2 linked regions of the Homo sapiens genome follow. The protein of the gene in region 1 interacts with the protein of each later gene in a pairwise test. Each region holds a gene or a part of one and is shown on either strand. Other genes may lie near its edges.

Region 1 (4,028 bases):
AAGCCATGGTAGGGTTATTAATTGACCTAATTTCAATACTGCTGTGCCTTAGGGAGTAGGGAGACCAGAGGAGACGGAAAGAGACTAGAGGATGATTGATTAGTAGAGCAGCCAGAATATACATAATATTTACCAATTAAGTTTGCTGTCTTACATGTGTGCACTTCACGGTACCCCAAATAATTATAACAGTAACGTCAGAGGTCACTGATCACAGATGACCATACCAGATGTTATAGTAATGAAAAGTTTGAAATACCACAAGAATTACCAAAATGTTATATAGAGACACAAAGGAAGGAGATGCTTTTGGAAAAATGGTGCCCGTAAACTTGCTCAATTCAGGGCTGCCACAAACCCTCAATTTGTAAAAAAAAAAAAAAAAAAAAAAAAAACCGGCCAGGCACGGTGGCTCACACCTGTAATCCCAGCACTTTGGGAGGCCGAGGGGGGCAGATCATGAGGTCAGAAGATCAAAACCATCCTGGCTAACACGGTGAAACCCTGTCTCTACTAAAAACACAAAAAATTAGCCAGGCGTGGTGGTGGGCACCTGTAGTCCCAGCTACTTGGGAAGCTAAGGCAGGCGAATGGCATGAACCCGGGAAGCAGAGCTTGCAGTGAGCTGAGATTGCGCCACTGCACTCCAGCCTGGGTGACAGAGCGAGACTCTGTCTCAAACAAAACAAAACAATAGTATTTGTGAAGTGCAATAAAACAAAGCACTATATCGTGAGCTAACCCTGTATTTTATGTGCTTTTCTGTACATGTTTTACTCAAAACAAGTTTTATAAAGCTTATTTACCTGTTTTTTCTGTGTTCGGTTCCTGTTTTCCAACCAATCATCCATTTGTTCCTCAATTTCTTCTATGGAAGTTCCATGATCATAAGACTGAATATATGTAGTTTCTAAAGGTGTGTATACAGGAAATTCAGGTTTTGGTTTTTTAACTTTCTTCTGTTCTAAAAAATGTTTAAAAGAACCAATTATTGAGATTTTTAAAGAATAAAATTAATTTCTAACATTTTATTCATAGACCATATCCTGAAAGAAAACATCAAAATATAATTGTTCTGTTATAAATAATTGGCTATAACTTTTATTGTACATAAACCATTGCATTGTTTCTAAATAAAACTCAGAGTTGCTACTATTGTGGAGATGATCATGAGATAGCCATCATATCAATTTGCATACACCTTTGTTTTCAAAGTACTTTTCATAAAATATTTCATTTTGGCACAATAAAAAGAGCTTCAATTTAATATTGTAACCCTAACTTTACCATGTAATAAGTAAATAATACTGGGCAAATAAATTAACACTTAGAACAGTATCAACTTTCTCATCTATAAAAAAAACCTGGCTCTCACTAAATGGTATACATTTATTTTTCAATATTTTACAAAGGTGAAATATGATCTGGCAACATCAAGAGTAGTTATGAATCGATGGCCATCCATTGGGCTCTTTATTAAATCCCATTTTAGGCCTAGGAGCAGTGGTTCACGGCTCTAATCCCAGCATTTTGGGAGGCCAAGGCAGGTGCATCACTGGAGGCCAGGAGTTCGAGACCAGCCTGGGCAAAATGGCAAAACCCTTCTTCTACTAAAAATGCAAAAATTAGCTGCGTGTGGTGGTACATGCATGTAATCCCAACTACTTGGGAAGCTGAGGCATGAGACTCACTTGAGCCCAGGAGGTGGAGGGTGGGGTTAGCCAAGATCACACCACTGCATTCCAGCCTGGGTGACAGAGTGAGATTCTATCTCAAACACACACACACACACACACACACACACACACACACACACACACCATTTTAACTGGAGACTTGACATTGAGAAGCAACTCCATTCTTAATTACTATAGTCAAACTCAGCCTCATAAGAGTATTTTCACCACCCCATGTGTACGTGTGTATGTGTGTATTTGCATGTACTATACTGCCAATGTAACAAAATCAGTATATACTGGCATAGGAATAGACAAATTCCTAGAAGAGAATAGAGAATCTGTAAATACCAATGCTTGTTGACTTATTATGGGATTACATCCTGATAAACCTATCATATATTGAAAACATCCTTAATTAGAAAATGCATTTAATAAAACTAACTTCATGGCTTAGCCTAGTCTACCTTAAGTGTACTCAGAACATTTACATTAGCTTATAGTTGGGCAAAATAACATAGTGACACAGTACACTGTAGAGGATCAGTTTTAATCCTCATGATCATATGGCTAAGTGGAAGCTGCAGTTTGCTGCTGTTACCCAGCATTATGAGGGAGTATCCTACCGCATATTGCTAGTCCAGGAAAAGATTCCAAATTCAAAGTACAGTATTGTTTTTGCACTATCATAAAGTCAAAAAATTGTAAGTCAAATCATTATAAGTCTAGGATTGTCTATATTTCAATTTAGTGGGAAAACAATTTATTAAGTAATGCTTACACAACTGAGTATCCATTTAAAAGAAAACTCTTACACTGTATACACAAATAAATTCCAGATAGAGAAGAGAGTTGACTTTAAAAGCCAAAACAATAAAAATTTTGCAAAAAGAAATCTTAAAATCTACTTGTACTATTTAAAGGAAGGGGACATCTAAATAAGAATGAAAACCCAGATGCTGTTACAAAAAAGATAAAAGAGTAAACAAATCAAGAGACAAATAATAGATTTGGAAAGGATGTATCCAATTCAGAGTATAAACAGAAGATTGCTATAAACAGATTTTATAAATGGACAACCACCCAATAGAAAAATATAGGCAAAAGGTCATAAATGGGCAATCCACAATTGAGTGCCCACGTGGCTAACAAATAAGAAAAGAGGCTCATACACTCTAAAGGTTAAAGAAATACAAATTAAGTAATACCAAGATATAATTTTATACCAATCATATGGGTACAAATTTAAAATCTAATTCAGATGTACTGTTGGCAGGGAAAAGGCTACTTCTAAATTGGTGGAGGAAATGTATTATTCTATTAGAGCCTTTCTGGAAAGCAGTCTAAACATATCCATTAAAATTAACATATACAGCCTTTTCCCCAGCAATTCTCCCAGAAACAAAAGTACTCAAATATAACTGTATGTGGGTATGTATGTATTTGTGTGTGTATGACTATTTACTATTTCTTCATAGAGAGATGAAACTATTAACACAGTAAACACTATTAGGAGAAATGACTGAATAATTATTGATGATGCTTTTACAATGAGAAGTATGAAATCACCATTGAAGTAGAGCAATAGCAGAAGTAATTTGGGCTACATATAGAGAATCAGTTATTTTTTTAAAAAGCAAATAAATTCAATTGTTTGTATTTATTTCTGGGGTGTTTCATCACAACTGCAAGTGATGTCTTTTTAAATAAGCATTTATAAAGGGGCACTAAATACAGAAATGAAATACTGCTATAAGCTAATACAAAAATACACAGACCAGTGTCACTATAAATCAACCACACAAACAAGCCAACATTATAACCAGCTAACAATACAATGACAGGATCAAATCCACACATATCAATACTAACCCTGAATGTCAATGTGCTAAATGCCCCACTTAAAAGTCACAGAGTGGCAAGCTGGATAAAAAAACAAGACTCAATGGCATGCTGTCTTCAAGAGACCCATCTCACAAGTAACGATGCCCTTAGCCTCAAAATAAAGAAATGAAGGGAAAACTACCAAGCAAATGGAAAACAGAAAAAAGCAGGGGTTGCAATCCTAATTTAAAGATTAAAAAACACAAAAAAAGGGCAATACATAATGGCAAAGGGTTCAATTCAACAAGACTTAACTATCCTAAATATATATGCACCCAACACAGGAGGACCCAGATTCATAAAGCGAGTTCTTAGAGACCTAAAAAGAGACACAGACTCACCCACATTAATAGTTGAAGACTTCAACACTCCATTGACAGTATTAGACAGATCACTGAGGCAGAAAATTAACAAAGATATTCAGGACCCAAACTAAACAGTGAACCAAATGGATCTGATAGATCTCTA
Region 2 (3,019 bases), on another chromosome or scaffold:
GTGCTCAGTAACACGGAAGAAACAGTGATCTGCCTCTCTCTTCTATTCTCCACTCTTGAGGAGCTGAATGGGCCCATTTGTCCAGGTCCTCCTTTGCATAAATCTCTCCAGGGTCTCCCCACAGCCTAGCCGGGTACCCCACTACAGGATGGCAGTTTGGAAAGTGTGGCAAGTCCCTAGAAGAGGGATCATTGAAGGTGATATGAAGATCCTGCATTAAATTAGAAAGCAAGAGCGCTGGTTATTTTTCCTTCCATATTCCTATTACTCTATGTTACACGGGTCTGTGTTTGGCCCTGTTTAATCACTTTCTGTCTTTGAACCCTCACAGCAACCCTAAAGGGACATGAGTCCTTTTCACGAACCCGTATTCCTAATCTGGACAATGACGAGGAGTTCAAGCCACTAGCCCAGGGTCAGGGAGCTGGGAAGTGGCACTGCTTGGTGTGAATCCTGTCAGCTTCCCTAGGTAGAGAGGTCAGTGATGAAGCTTCTCTATGGCCTAGGTATGTTTATCTCTTCACTGCTTGAAATCTTTCAACAAAACCAAGCATTACAGTCAGTCCTGGAAGCAAAACAGAGACATAGAGGGATATGAATAAGTATACTTTGATGGGAGGGAGGCAGGGTCCTGTGTCTTCCGTGTTGCTGTGCACAGGAGAAACGTGGCCGAAGAACTGAGGTGGGGACGGGGACAGGAACAGGCAATGCCAGAGATCTGAAGGTCGCATCCTCGGCATGTCCCTTGCACACTACTCCCTCGCTGTGCTCTCTGCTCCCACCAATCCAGACAATTGAACAAGAGACTGGGGTTGCACTGGGACTCCAGGAAAGCCTTAGCTGTTGACAGGGGGTGGGCAGGCCCCGGGGTGTGGGGCGCAGGTCAGGATCTCGGGGCACGCGGAACGCCAAAGGGCGGGAGTAGCAGGTAATCTCAGGGAACTGGGCAGGCCCGGCAGGGTGAAACAAGCAGCTCACCCGGGTGCACAGCCCCTCCCGCGGGAGCCGCTGCGAAAGGGCCGTCCCCGCGGTGTGCACCGACCTGCGCTCAGGGTACTTTGCGCCCGACCCGTCTGCTGCGCACAGCCCAGCCCAGGACCGCGGGCGGCTCGGACTCAGTGGGTCGGGTGCAAGGGTGGGGCAGGGTCTCTGCACCCGGCTCCCTCCCCTGACTAGAAAAGGAGCTGCCAACTGTTGCGCTCCACCACGCCCTCCACGTGTTCCACTGCCTCTTCTCTTCTCGCTTGGGAACTCCAGTCTCACCTCGGCTTGCAATGGACCCCAACTGCTCCTGCGAGGCTGGTAAGGAACGCCCGGGTTCTGTGCCTTAGGATGCCAAATTCCCAGACACCATAGAGAGTGTCCCTGGGTTTGAGGAGGTCATATTTTGCGATCTGAGCTGAAGAGGACTTCTTTACTTCCTCCGCTGCTTTCCTCTTGGCCAAGCTCCTGAGAGCATGTCCCTCTTCCCTGTGCCTCTATGTCAGAGTTGAGGGTCCTAAGGCTCAAGGCTGTCCTGCTCCACATCACCCCGTTGGTCACGAGGCTGCTGGCTGAGCCCCAATTCTCTAACCAGGCTCTGAGCAGCCGGATTGGATGGGAGGCATTGGATAGGTGGGGACATTGCCTCTTCAGGGTTCAGCACAGAAAGTCGAAGTCGCAGTCTTCCCGGGCTGTGCCTGGAGCCTGGGACTTACCTTTGGAATACAAACGGAGGGTGCTTGGTTTTCCCAGCATGAATGGAGAGGAGATGGGTCTTCTCTTCTTCTGCTGAGTGGGAAAGGAGCTCTGACGGCTGGCCCTGAACAGAGAAGGGGGAAGTGGACACTCATTGACCCACTGCTGTAACTTCTGCATCTCACTCACAACACACTGGCTTTTTCTATTCCTTGCAGGTGGCTCCTGCGCCTGCGCCGGCTCCTGCAAGTGCAAAAAGTGCAAATGCACCTCCTGCAAGAAGAGTGAGTGCGGGGCCATCTCCAGGAATCTGGGGCTGTGGCTAAGGTTGGGAGGGAACCCAAGGCTGGCCCTGAGTGCCTGCTTCCTTTGTCCCCCTAGGCCGTCACTGCCTTTCCAGTCTTCTGCTCTGTCCAGGGCTCCTGTGGGGCTGGGCAGTCTCTCATAGGAAGACTCACCCCAATATCCACCAGTCGTCTCCTGAAAAAGCTGTGCCATCCTGAACTAAGGATCCTCTGGGGCTGGAGTCTGAGCTTGAGCCAGGCCTGCTGTTGGGAGAGGGAGCTCCCTGGTCAAGTCTGCTGTGACTTCTCTCTCCCTTTTTCCCCAGGCTGCTGCTCCTGTTGCCCCCTGGGCTGTGCCAAGTGTGCCCAGGGCTGCATCTGCAAAGGGGCGTCAGAGAAGTGCAGCTGCTGTGCCTGATGTCGGGACAGCCCTGCTGTCAGATGAAAACAGAATGACACGTAAAATCCAGGATTTTTTTTTTCTACAACTCCGACTCATTTGCTACATTCCTTTTTTTCTGTGAAATATGTGAATAATAATTAAACACTTAGACTTGATTCCCGTTCTGGTTCCTGTTGTGTTTTTTGGAATGAGGGACTGGGGTGGGAGATTGAACTGGGAGTTTAAAGACTGGGCTCTGGATGGAAATGTGAGTGCTGAACAGTCTGAGCGCCTTCAGGTGAGCCCCATTACATCACTGACCTCCATCTTCTGTAAAAGGCACCTGCACTGTCCTGGCTCATATGGGGATGGGGACATACGCGATCAGCTCCACTCATATTAAATGTGGTACAGAGACTTCTCCATTCCTCATGTTTATTCTCAGGTTTCCCTGCCCAAGTTCAGTTCCTCAGCAGATTTTAGGCTTGAAATTGGCCACAGGAGGTGGATTCCAATGCCTAAATTACTTGAATCCTCCATGGGGCTTCTCAAACTCCACGGTGAAGGGACAGTTTTCATTTTCTATCCATCCCAGACCTAAACCTTTGTAAATAAAGTAATATTAATTATGAAGATAATGAAGCACAAAATATAGAACCCATGTTTTACATTTTAC

Evidence for each region.
Region 2: the proteins of DNAJC1 (region 1) and MT1H interact in a two-hybrid assay, tested with the Homo sapiens proteins (one study listed by IntAct).

Annotation. Positions count from the first base shown.
Region 1 is NC_000010.11:21,881,476-21,885,503, forward strand, and holds part of DNAJC1 (dnaJ homolog subfamily C member 1 precursor), read right to left. Parts: intron 965-4,028; coding exon 807-964; intron 1-806. UniProt on the Homo sapiens protein: May modulate protein synthesis.
Region 2 is NC_000016.10:56,668,611-56,671,629, forward strand, and holds MT1H (metallothionein-1H), read left to right. Parts: upstream 1-1,203; 5' UTR 1,204-1,274; coding exon 1,275-1,302; intron 1,303-1,895; coding exon 1,896-1,961; intron 1,962-2,287; coding exon 2,288-2,379; 3' UTR 2,380-2,519; downstream 2,520-3,019. UniProt on the Homo sapiens protein: Metallothioneins have a high content of cysteine residues that bind various heavy metals; these proteins are transcriptionally regulated by both heavy metals and glucocorticoids.